Linked DNA regions of Homo sapiens: region 2 is linked to region 1. The links come from fine-mapping of genetic effects on gene expression. Tissue or cell type: whole blood. Region 1 holds a variant in brackets; the other region holds the start of a gene. All regions are shown on one strand. Distances are from middle to middle.

The links. PIP is the estimated chance that this variant, and not a neighbour inherited with it, causes the effect.
Region 2: it holds the start of THBS1, and the variant in region 1 is fine-mapped to the expression of THBS1 in whole blood (INTERVAL, PIP above 0.99).

The regions. Positions count from the first base shown.
Region 1 is chr15:39,266,689-39,271,838 of GRCh38, forward strand. All of the region lies in intron 1 of LOC105370777 (a long non-coding RNA gene), which reads right to left. Among named protein-coding and RNA genes, the nearest start is that of LINC02915, 19 kb to the left of the region's middle. The variant G/A (reference allele first, on the strand shown) is at 2,832.
Region 2 is chr15:39,578,401-39,583,550 of GRCh38, forward strand. THBS1 (thrombospondin 1) reads left to right here and starts at 2,679. Exons shown (of 22, transcript NM_003246.4): 1 at 2,679-2,828; 2 at 3,429-3,524; 3 at 3,793-4,352. The coding sequence starts at 3,458. It overlaps LOC124903470, which reads left to right and starts at 1,407. Exons shown (of 1, transcript XM_047433405.1): 1 at 1,407-2,594. The coding sequence starts at 1,918. The coding sequence ends at 2,352. RefSeq lists an enhancer at 1,770-2,507 and silencers at 1,930-2,159, 2,170-2,219.

The sequences.
Region 1 (5,150 bases):
TCATTTCCAACAACACAACCAGGTCTAAATTACATAGAACCATGATGGAATAATCAACGAATGTGACCTAGAGTTTAAATTTTGGGATTATGTTCAGATGGCATAGCTACAATAGCAGAAAAGCATTCTGGAATTGCTACACCACAATATAAATCAATGAATTGCTTCCTTATCAAGAAAGTCTTGTTACAAAACAAAAATGTTAGCAGGACTAAAAGGTGTATTTAGTGCAATTGTAAATTACCTACAAGCTAATGCACTAAATTTGATATTACTCTTTTTATTTGTAATGATATGGAAGCTGCTTATACACAACTACTGGGATATGAGTTATCAAGGAGAAAGGTTTTATCAGTAATATATGAACTATTCAACAACCCTATTGTGTTCCAGACAAGATAAGAAACAAGCCCCAACATTCCAAAGATATGAATTAGACAGTCTGTCATGCTTATTTCTTTGGTAACGTTGATCTTTTTTAAAGATCTTAATACTTCCATGCAAATAAAGAATGTGACATGTTTTCAATGGCAGATAAGATTAAAGTGCAAAAAGCTAGAAGCCTGGACAAACAGAGTTTCTAAAGAGTGCTGAAAGTCCCGTAAGTTAATAATAAATAATAATGAAGTAGGTGATGATCTTGAAATTATATACCTGCCAGGATATTTCCCTATACCTTAGAAATTTTGTAAACAGTTTTAAATTTAACTTTCCATTATAAGAATATTTTACATCTGCCAGGATATTGCCCTATATCTTAGAAATTCTGTAGAAAGTTTTAAATGCAACTTTCCATCATAAGAATATTTTACATCTGCCAGGATATTGCCCTATACCTTAGAAATTTTGTAGAAAGTTTTAAATTTAACTTTTCATCATAAGAATATTTTACAAATAGGAAATTCATAAATCCAAAATCCCTTTCTTTCATTAAAAGTAAAGTTAATTTTAACTTTAAAGGATAAATTGTTCAAATATGCTACTGGTGAAGGATCAAAGGTGAGTTTTGCAAATACTGAATCACTTGCTTCATTTCTACAAAAAGTTAAAAATGAATATCCTGAGTTTACTGAAGTTACTTTGGTATTTATTCTCTTTCATATCAAGGTAACTCTGTGAGACTGTACTCAAGCTACTCTAAATGTTACTGAACGAAACAGAAACAGGAAATGAGTGGTGTCATTGCCACTCCAGCTATGCTACAACAACCGACAAGCGAGAAGCATGCTTATACATTGCATTGGTTCAACCATTGTGGTAGACAGTGTGGCGATTCCTCGAAGATCTAGAACTAGAAATACCATTTGACCCAACCATCCCATTACTGGGTATATACCCAAAGGATTATAAATCATACTGCTATAAAGACACATGCACACGTATGTTTATTGCGCCACTATTCACAATAGCAAAGACTTGGAACCAACCCAAATGTCCATCAGTGATAGACTGGATTAAGAAAATGTGGCACATATACACCATGGAATACTATGCAGTCATAAAAAATGATGAGTTCACGTGCTTTGTAGGGACATGGATGAAGCTGGAAACCATCATTCTCAGCAAACTATCGCAAGGACAAAAAACCAAACGCCGCATGTTCTCACTCATAGGTGGGAAATGAACAACGAGAACACCTGGACACAGGAAGGGGAACATGACACACCGGGGCCTGTCACTGGGTGAGGGGAAGGGGGAGGGATAGCATTAGGAGATATACCTAATGCCAATGACGAGTTAATGGGTACAGCACACCAACATGGCACATGTATACATAGGTAACAAACCTGCACATTGTGCACATGTACCCTAGAACTTAAAGTATAATTTTAAAAAAAGAACCTTAAATATTGATATACATTGTGTTCATTAAAAGTATGTCTATGGGTATTTAACATGATATATTCCTATTTTACTCATAGTTTCCTTAGTTTATAATTGCAGAGAGAAAAAGGGCTATTAGTACGAAAGTGATCCTCTATAGTTACATTATATTTGTATACATCAAATGCACCATGTTTTTAAATATTTTCTTTTTCCTATGCTTATTCTGATCATGTTTGTTAAAATGAATTTTGTGTCTATAAAATCTAATAATAAAATCTGCCTTCTATGTCATATGTCTTCTATCCCTTTTTTGTAGGAATTAGTGCATATTGCATTTTACAAAAGCACAGATCTGGGATGGATTGGAAAGCAACTAACAAACTGCTCCTTCTCCACAGATGATCTGAGAAGCACATACATTATTTATCTGCCTTTAGATCATTTCTAAGCTATCCTAAAATCAGGATTCTACTTTTCCCAAATTACCCCTGCCCCACCCTACCTTGACTCCTTGCCTACCTGAGGAACATCATCCATCAAATCAAGATGAAGTAAATGCAGGCTGTTCTTGTGACTCTTCAAGGTCAAAGAGCCAAATGCTCACAGAGGCTGGGCTGGGAGAGCACATGGGTGCAGGAACAAGCAGCGTGCAGGGGTACCTCTGTTTCAGATCAACTGGCCCAAGCAGGAGCATGGCCTGGGTTGCCAGATCCCTCACAGTTTTTCAAGAGAAACCAGAAACCCAGATTTTTACAGGGAACTACAGTCATTTAAAAATGTGAAGAAGTAATTCAGATTTTTACAAGCCACAAGGCCAGCTAAAGAAAATGCCTGTGTGGGCTAAAATTGGCCCAGGAATCCCACCTGGGGACTGCTGGGGCTCCACATGCTACTGATAGAAAAAGTGAGATCAGCAAATGCAAAGGATTTCTTTCAAGCACAGCCTGCAGGTGGATTTTGGCAGTTTCCTATCAGCGTTTTTCCATCTATGGAAAACAGCTGCT[G/A]GTGTGAGCCAATGCTTCAGGAGCACTCCTCCTGCCTCTGTCTAGCCTGAGGCAACCCCACAATCAGTCTCAGATACCAACATGAGCATGAAACATACTCCACAAAGGAGCTGTTCAACAAGGGGTCCCATGATTTCAGGGCCACTAGTCCAGAAAAGGATATTCAGTCACGGTGCAAAAGAAGAGGGTATATGAGGACCTCTTTGAAGGGAGCTGAGAGTGAGTATCCTGATCCCACCAGCAGGAAGGAGGTGAGGTGCCACCCTTTCCTTCAATCCTAGTTGGGAGAGGGATTTCCCATGGGAAACATTAGAAAATTTCATATATGTTTCTTCCGCTGGGGGCTGTGGAGGACTGGTGCTTGGTTCACACATGAGACAGCTGAGCTGCCTGATAGATTTGGCCATGCTGAGATTAGCCTGTACTCCCAGTTGGGCAGGGCAAGGGATGCACCAGTGTTTCCTGCTAGTGTGCCCATCATCATTCTCAGAAACAGGAGGAGACCAATGTACATTCATTGTCCAGGAGGAGCATGTGACTTTGCCGCCTGATGTTTACGAAAGAGTTTACAGTGCTGTATAAGTGCTGAATGGCATTGTTCTTCCACAGGGCTTTCATGGACAAAATGAAAGATAAGAATTCCCTCTCTGCCTTCGAGGGCCCTTCCCAGCCCCTTCTTCTTTTGTCTGTCTCATCCACAAACTAAAAAGTATCTGCCCTGAGATCCTGAGATGGCCTTTCCCTTTAAGCCTCATTATTATTCACCTTCTATGGAAAGAACTCACTTTAGGCTGAATCCCCTACAAGCTATGAGAGTGTCCAGTCAAACCCAGCACAGTGTAGCATTGATATCATTATCTAGTGGTGGTTTCATTTAAAGAAATGTTTCATTCACTGGAGAGATGGGGAGGTCTGGGGTGGTGGGTGGGGGTATGATTTGCATTCACTGTGGGGCTCTTAGTACCTAAAACAAGTGGCTTGTGTTTCTGTGCTGGACTCTGCTTTTTCTCCCCACCCCACCCAGTAGCTCCCAATTCTCTATCCACAAGATCTTTAAAACCCAATGCAAGTCAAACAATAGAACCCTCAATTTAGAAACTGTAACTCTGGATTCAGGGAGCTAAGCCAACATTCAAACCCTCCCTGACTTTTCACAGCACTTACTGCTTCTGTCATGGGTTTGGCACTTGATTATATTCAATTTAGCACATAATTATATCCCTACTCTCTCATGTTTTTCTTTCATTGCTTGTAAGTGTTCAGTTTATTTGTCCCAATCATACAGTAAGCCCCTGGACAGCAGAGACCACTTTTCACCCTTCACCAGAGATCCATATACTTAGCAGTGTTGGGCCCAGAGCAGATAGGCAATAAACACCAGCTGAGCTGAACAGAGTGGAACAAGCCACCAGCTCCACCTTCCAACTTGCCATTGATGGGGAGAAAAGGCAAAACCACCTGAGCATTCAGCTTGCCGCTGCCTTTCCCTGCTGGAAAGTCATAAGCTTCTTCCCCGGGCTTCTTATGGGAAAGGCATGATCTTCTTGAGACTTCAGCGTAGGCACATCCTCGGGGAGCACTTTCTAATGGGAAGTGTGAGTCTGGGTGGATAGTGCCCATGACTCATTGTAAAGTCTATGTGGGAGCCTGGGCGGCTATAGTCTCATATGAAAAGTATTTCTGCTCTATCCTGCTCCTTCCCACGCTCAACCTTCCTGAGCCACCCTGTTGCCATAAGCATCTGTACAGTGCCGCAAGCCTCACTACTAAGTGTCATCCTTGGACCATCAGCATCACCAGAGGGCCTATTAGAAAGGCAGGATGTTGGGTGACATCTCAGTCCTAATGAGTTAAGACCTTTTTAACAAGACCTCCAGGTGTGTCCTATGCATGGTAAAATTTGAGAAGCCCTTCCCTGAAGAGGACCTTGTCAGGCATTCTCCCTGAGGAGACAGGTTTTTTGAGCTGTCTCCAGAATAATCTGGAGAGCTGTCCTGGATATAAATGATGCTTTCTTCCTCGGGGGGAGGAGAAGCTCCACAAAGGAGCAACAACACAAATTGTCTCCAACCCACAGATAGGCACAGAGCTCAAAAGAAATTAAGTCAAGCCAAATGGCAAGCAAGATGCTGTTAGTATGAGTGGTAATAGATAGCTCCCTATGTCCTGTTCTGTCATTCTGTCTGTTGCTGTACATGCTCCAGGACATCCTGCCCTTAGCAAAACATGCTGGAATGGGTTTACAGTGGGTCCGAGGACATATTCTAGTGAAAGACCAAAGCCTTGCCAGTCCTCTAGGCACAGTCGTTATCTCCCTGG
Region 2 (5,150 bases), 310 kb after region 1:
CTAGCTGTAACTGACAGCCCTTTCCTCACACTTACTGCCAATGTATTTAGGTCAATCCCACCTCCAATTAGAGAAACTTAGAAAAAGGAAATCCTACGGTGAAATGCCATATGCCTTACAATTTTCAGTAACTAATCCTCAAGGATGACAACTTGGCAAAAAAGAGAACTGGACCAGCTCCCTGAAAGGTCCATCACTTCGGCCCATGTTAATTGATTGCCTTAAAATCACAGTGCTTCCAGGTTGTAGAGACACACTCAAAATGGACTATTGCCCTCACATTAAAGGGGATAGGTTTTCTTTTCCCTTTTCCCATCCCTGCTTCTCTCAAAGCTGCACAGAGGTATATGAGGTTTGGGGAATATTTGCAGCACATGTTGGCTGGCAAGAATGTGGGTGAATTCCTGTTAAGGGGCGCAGACACTCCCTCTTCTATGACCTTTCCTTTCCACCCAGAACAACTGAAGTATCATGATAAGAGGAAGGGCTTTGTGTTTGAGATAAGCAGCTCCTATACCTGTCAGCTTTCTCTAATAAGAAAGCTCTTTCCTGCCACCGTATAGGTCACCTTCTTATTGGTAAAGCATGATGAAGTTTGGAAACTGTTGTCCTTGTTTTGTTGAAAGAAGCCAAGTTCCAAGAAATCTGCAGAGGCATTCCTACAATCCCTCAGCCATGGCAGCATGAATCCTGAAGGGGCAGTGAGTGCTGGTTTCTACTCTGTCTGCACAGCTAAGCCTAGGGGAGATAATCTTTTCATACAAGATGCATTCTGCTTTTGTGGGCCTCTTGCAGCCCTCAAGCCCCCATCTGATTTGTACACAATGATCCAGTGGGCCAGAGGAGCCCAGAGCCATGAGCGGCCCATCCCTCCAAGAACTATTTCTGACTGTCCAGTATCATGGAGCAAGTGGAAAGAAGAAAAAAAAAACCCAATTACTTTTCGAAGAGCAAGATGAATGCTGTAGAAGGAGAAGGAAGGGGAGGGAGATGGATGGGTGCCGATTCCAGAATCTTCAGATCTGCTTGGATGAATCATTACCTATGATTTGCGGGACAAGAATCTGATTTTATTCATCAACCAGTAGAAACTTTTCTTTCTGCCTCCCAACATCTGAAATCCAACAAACATGTGCCTTAGGAACATACCGGTCATCTTTTAGAGGCATTTTATATACATATTGAGTAACTAGAAAACACTCTTTCCGTAATACACACACACACACACACACACACACACCATCTTGTCATACAACACTCCCACGCAAGAAAAGCGAAACTGCTGTTTGATGAATGTAAACACTTGGCTGTTTGCAGCAGTCGGGAGTCCTGCCAGGTTTAAGTGCTAAGATGGGAGGTGAACCCCAGGGGTTTCCCCCTGCCCGTGCTGAGATCCTTATTTGGTCAAGCTTCTACCTATGCCCTGGCCTCGGAGCGAGCCCGATAGCGCTGGATCACAGCAGAGGGAGCGAGGCGGCTGACGTCCCATCCCGAAGAGATGAATGGAATTCCAGGAAGCTAGAGTCATGCTGGCTTGGGACAGTGGCTTGGAGACCAGACTTCAATGACAGAAGCACTAGGCAGCGGCACTCATGGCAATGTGTGCACCCACAGAAATGTAACCCACACCTCGGGTTCAGGAGCCGAAAAATGAAAAGAACGTTTAGGGAGGAAAAAGGGAAATACAATAATAGGCAGAGAGTAATTTATTACTCTATGGGTCTGCTCTGTAAATAGCTGAAGACTCTGGAGCCAGATGGTTCTGCAAATTCTCCAAACAGGAGTCACGTTAAGAAGCACGAGTGGGCACAAAAACTGTTTTTCAAGACACAATTTCAATTTGGCTTGTGGAAACTGGATACGAGTAAGTTTCCTTAAAATTCGAGTAGAAAGCAGCTGTCCTCCCCGGGCCCCTTGATGAGAATACGCACACCGCCCCCAAGCGGCCGGCCGAGGGAGCGCCGCGGCAGCGGGAGAGGCGTCTCTGTGGGCCCCCTGGCAGCCGCGGCAGGAAAGGGCCCGAAGGCAGCGAAGGCGAACGCGGCGCACCAACCTGCCGGCCCCGCCGACGCCGCGCTCACCTCCCTCCGGGGCGGGCGTGGGGCCAGCTCAGGACAGGCGCTCGGGGGACGCGTGTCCTCACCCCACGGGGACGGTGGAGGAGAGTCAGCGAGGGCCCGAGGGGCAGGTACTTTAACGAATGGCTCTCTTGGTGTCCCCTGCGCCCCGTCGGCCCATTTTTCTTTTTACAAAACGGGCCCAGTCTCTAGTATCCACCTCTCGCCATCAACCAGGCATTCCGGGAGATCAGCTCGCCCGAAAGCCCCTGCGCCACCCCGCGGGCCCTCCTAGGTGGTCTCCCCAGCCCCGTCCCTTTTCGGGATGCTTGCTGATCACCCCGAGCCCGCGTGGCGCAAGAGTACGAGCGCCGAGCCCGTGCGCGCCAAGGCTGCGTGGGCGGGCACCGACTTTTCTGAGAAGTTCTAGTGCTCCCAAGCCCCGACCCCCGCCCCCTTCACTTTCTAGCTGGAAAGTTGCGCGCCAGGCAGCGGGGGGCGGAGAGAGGAGCCCAGACTGGCCCCCACCTCCCGCTTCCTGCCCGGCCGCCGCCCATTGGCCGGAGGAATCCCCAGGAATGCGAGCGCCCCTTTAAAAGCGCGCGGCTCCTCCGCCTTGCCAGCCGCTGCGCCCGAGCTGGCCTGCGAGTTCAGGGCTCCTGTCGCTCTCCAGGAGCAACCTCTACTCCGGACGCACAGGCATTCCCCGCGCCCCTCCAGCCCTCGCCGCCCTCGCCACCGCTCCCGGCCGCCGCGCTCCGGTACACACAGGTAAGTCGCCCCCGGCGGCCGCCGAGGACCAAAGCTGCCCGGGACATCCACCTGGAGCGCTGAGGCTTCAGTCCCTCTGGTGGACCCCGGAACCTACACTCTCCCCGCTCGCCTACCCCAGCCCGCTCCTCTCAGCCGCTGGAGGACTCTTCAGGGCAAGGCTCCAGAGCCATCCTCTCCAGCCTTGAGGTTCACAAACCAACTCATCAGGACACCCCAAGATTTCCTTACTCTCTGAAGTCCTCCTTAAGCCTTTGTATCAGCACTCCAGGGAAGAGTCTGTACTTCCCCTGCCCTCCCTGCAACCCCAAACTACAGTTCCTGATCTTGCTCACCTTCGACTTCCCAAAAGCCCCCAAATTGTTGGTCTTGCGCCCCCCACACTTTAAAACCAGCATCTCTTTCCTCCACCTCTCTCTCTCTCTCTCTCTCTCTCTCTCATGCTCTCTGGAAAGTAATCCTGTTGTCCTTCATTTCAGCAAACGCGGGGTCAAAGAGGGATGGTCCCGGCCCTGTCCCCATGCCCAGCCCCGTTTCTGCGCACCGTCCCTCCCTGCCTAGCTGATCTCTGACCCTCGGCTCTTGTGCTTCCTGCTACAGGATCCCTGCTGGGCACCAACAGCTCCACCATGGGGCTGGCCTGGGGACTAGGCGTCCTGTTCCTGATGCATGTGTGTGGCACCAACCGCATTCCAGGTGAGTTTGTGTGGCACCTTTAGGGGAAGGAGGGACAAGGAAGAGGTGCTGGCTATCCCAGGTGTGCCCCCTCACGTGCTGTCCTCTCCCTCTTGAGCCTGACTGGACATCAGGACGCAGCTTCACTCTGATCCTGGTATTTATTCACCTCTTTCAGTGGTTGCCAGGAGTTTTCACCCCAACCCTTTGTCTCCACCCCTAAGGACTCAGCCCCCTACTGCTGGTCCCAGCCTAGAAAGCTCACTTTGTGTTCTCTCCTGTCTAACAGAGTCTGGCGGAGACAACAGCGTGTTTGACATCTTTGAACTCACCGGGGCCGCCCGCAAGGGGTCTGGGCGCCGACTGGTGAAGGGCCCCGACCCTTCCAGCCCAGCTTTCCGCATCGAGGATGCCAACCTGATCCCCCCTGTGCCTGATGACAAGTTCCAAGACCTGGTGGATGCTGTGCGGGCAGAAAAGGGTTTCCTCCTTCTGGCATCCCTGAGGCAGATGAAGAAGACCCGGGGCACGCTGCTGGCCCTGGAGCGGAAAGACCACTCTGGCCAGGTCTTCAGCGTGGTGTCCAATGGCAAGGCGGGCACCCTGGACCTCAGCCTGACCGTCCAAGGAAAGCAGCACGTGGTGTCTGTGGAAGAAGCTCTCCTGGCAACCGGCCAGTGGAAGAGCATCACCCTGTTTGTGCAGGAAGACAGGGCCCAGCTGTACATCGACTGTGAAAAGATGGAGAATGCTGAGTTGGACGTCCCCATCCAAAGCGTCTTCACCAGAGACCTGGCCAGCATCGCCAGACTCCGCATCGCAAAGGGGGGCGTCAATGACAATTTCCAGGTGAGGCTTCTTCTCTGAGCCCTGCTCCGTGGGATCATCTGCTAGACAGGTGACCTGCCAGGAGGGCTACAGGAAATCCTGTCTGTAAACTAACGCAGCAGTTCTCAGATTTTAGGCAGCATGAGCATCACCTGGAGGGCTTGTGAAAGCTCACCCTGCTGCACCCCAGCCCCAGAGTCTGGGATTCTGTAAAACTGCAACTCTAACAAGTACCAGGTGATGCTGATGCCGGTGGTCTGGGAAGCACACTTTGAAAACTACTCAAGGAAACAAGAAATGGTTTTCCTTTAGCAGTCAGCCTGTTCAAGCCTTAGATACTCCTTAGGCTCTTAAGAAAAGAGCTTATTTCAAATGCATTCCCCCAATTTTAATCTTGTTTGAAATGGATACTTTCTATGGGCAGAATCAGTACCACTTTGCTATTGGATTCCTCATGGGGATGCAGCTGGTCTCACATAAAAGGTTAAAATAGCAGTTAGTTGTTGCTGTTACAGCTTCATCTGTGCCTTAACTTCTAGATCTTTGCAACGGTGGCTTTGAACTCCCACATTTAACTCTTTGACACTGGAAAGTGTCATTATATCCTCTAGGCTTAGGATCAGATTCCATTTCCTGTGTACCCAAGTAGGCTGATAACTGAATTCTTTGTAAAATACTCAAGACTTGGCAGAAGTCACAATTAAGATTTTGAAGTTGTTTGGCGATTAATGTTGCTGTGTTATTTTGACATAGTGATCTTAAGACAGCTCTTTGAAGCTTTTAGAACATCTATTGTATGCTTTTCCTAGCATACAGACA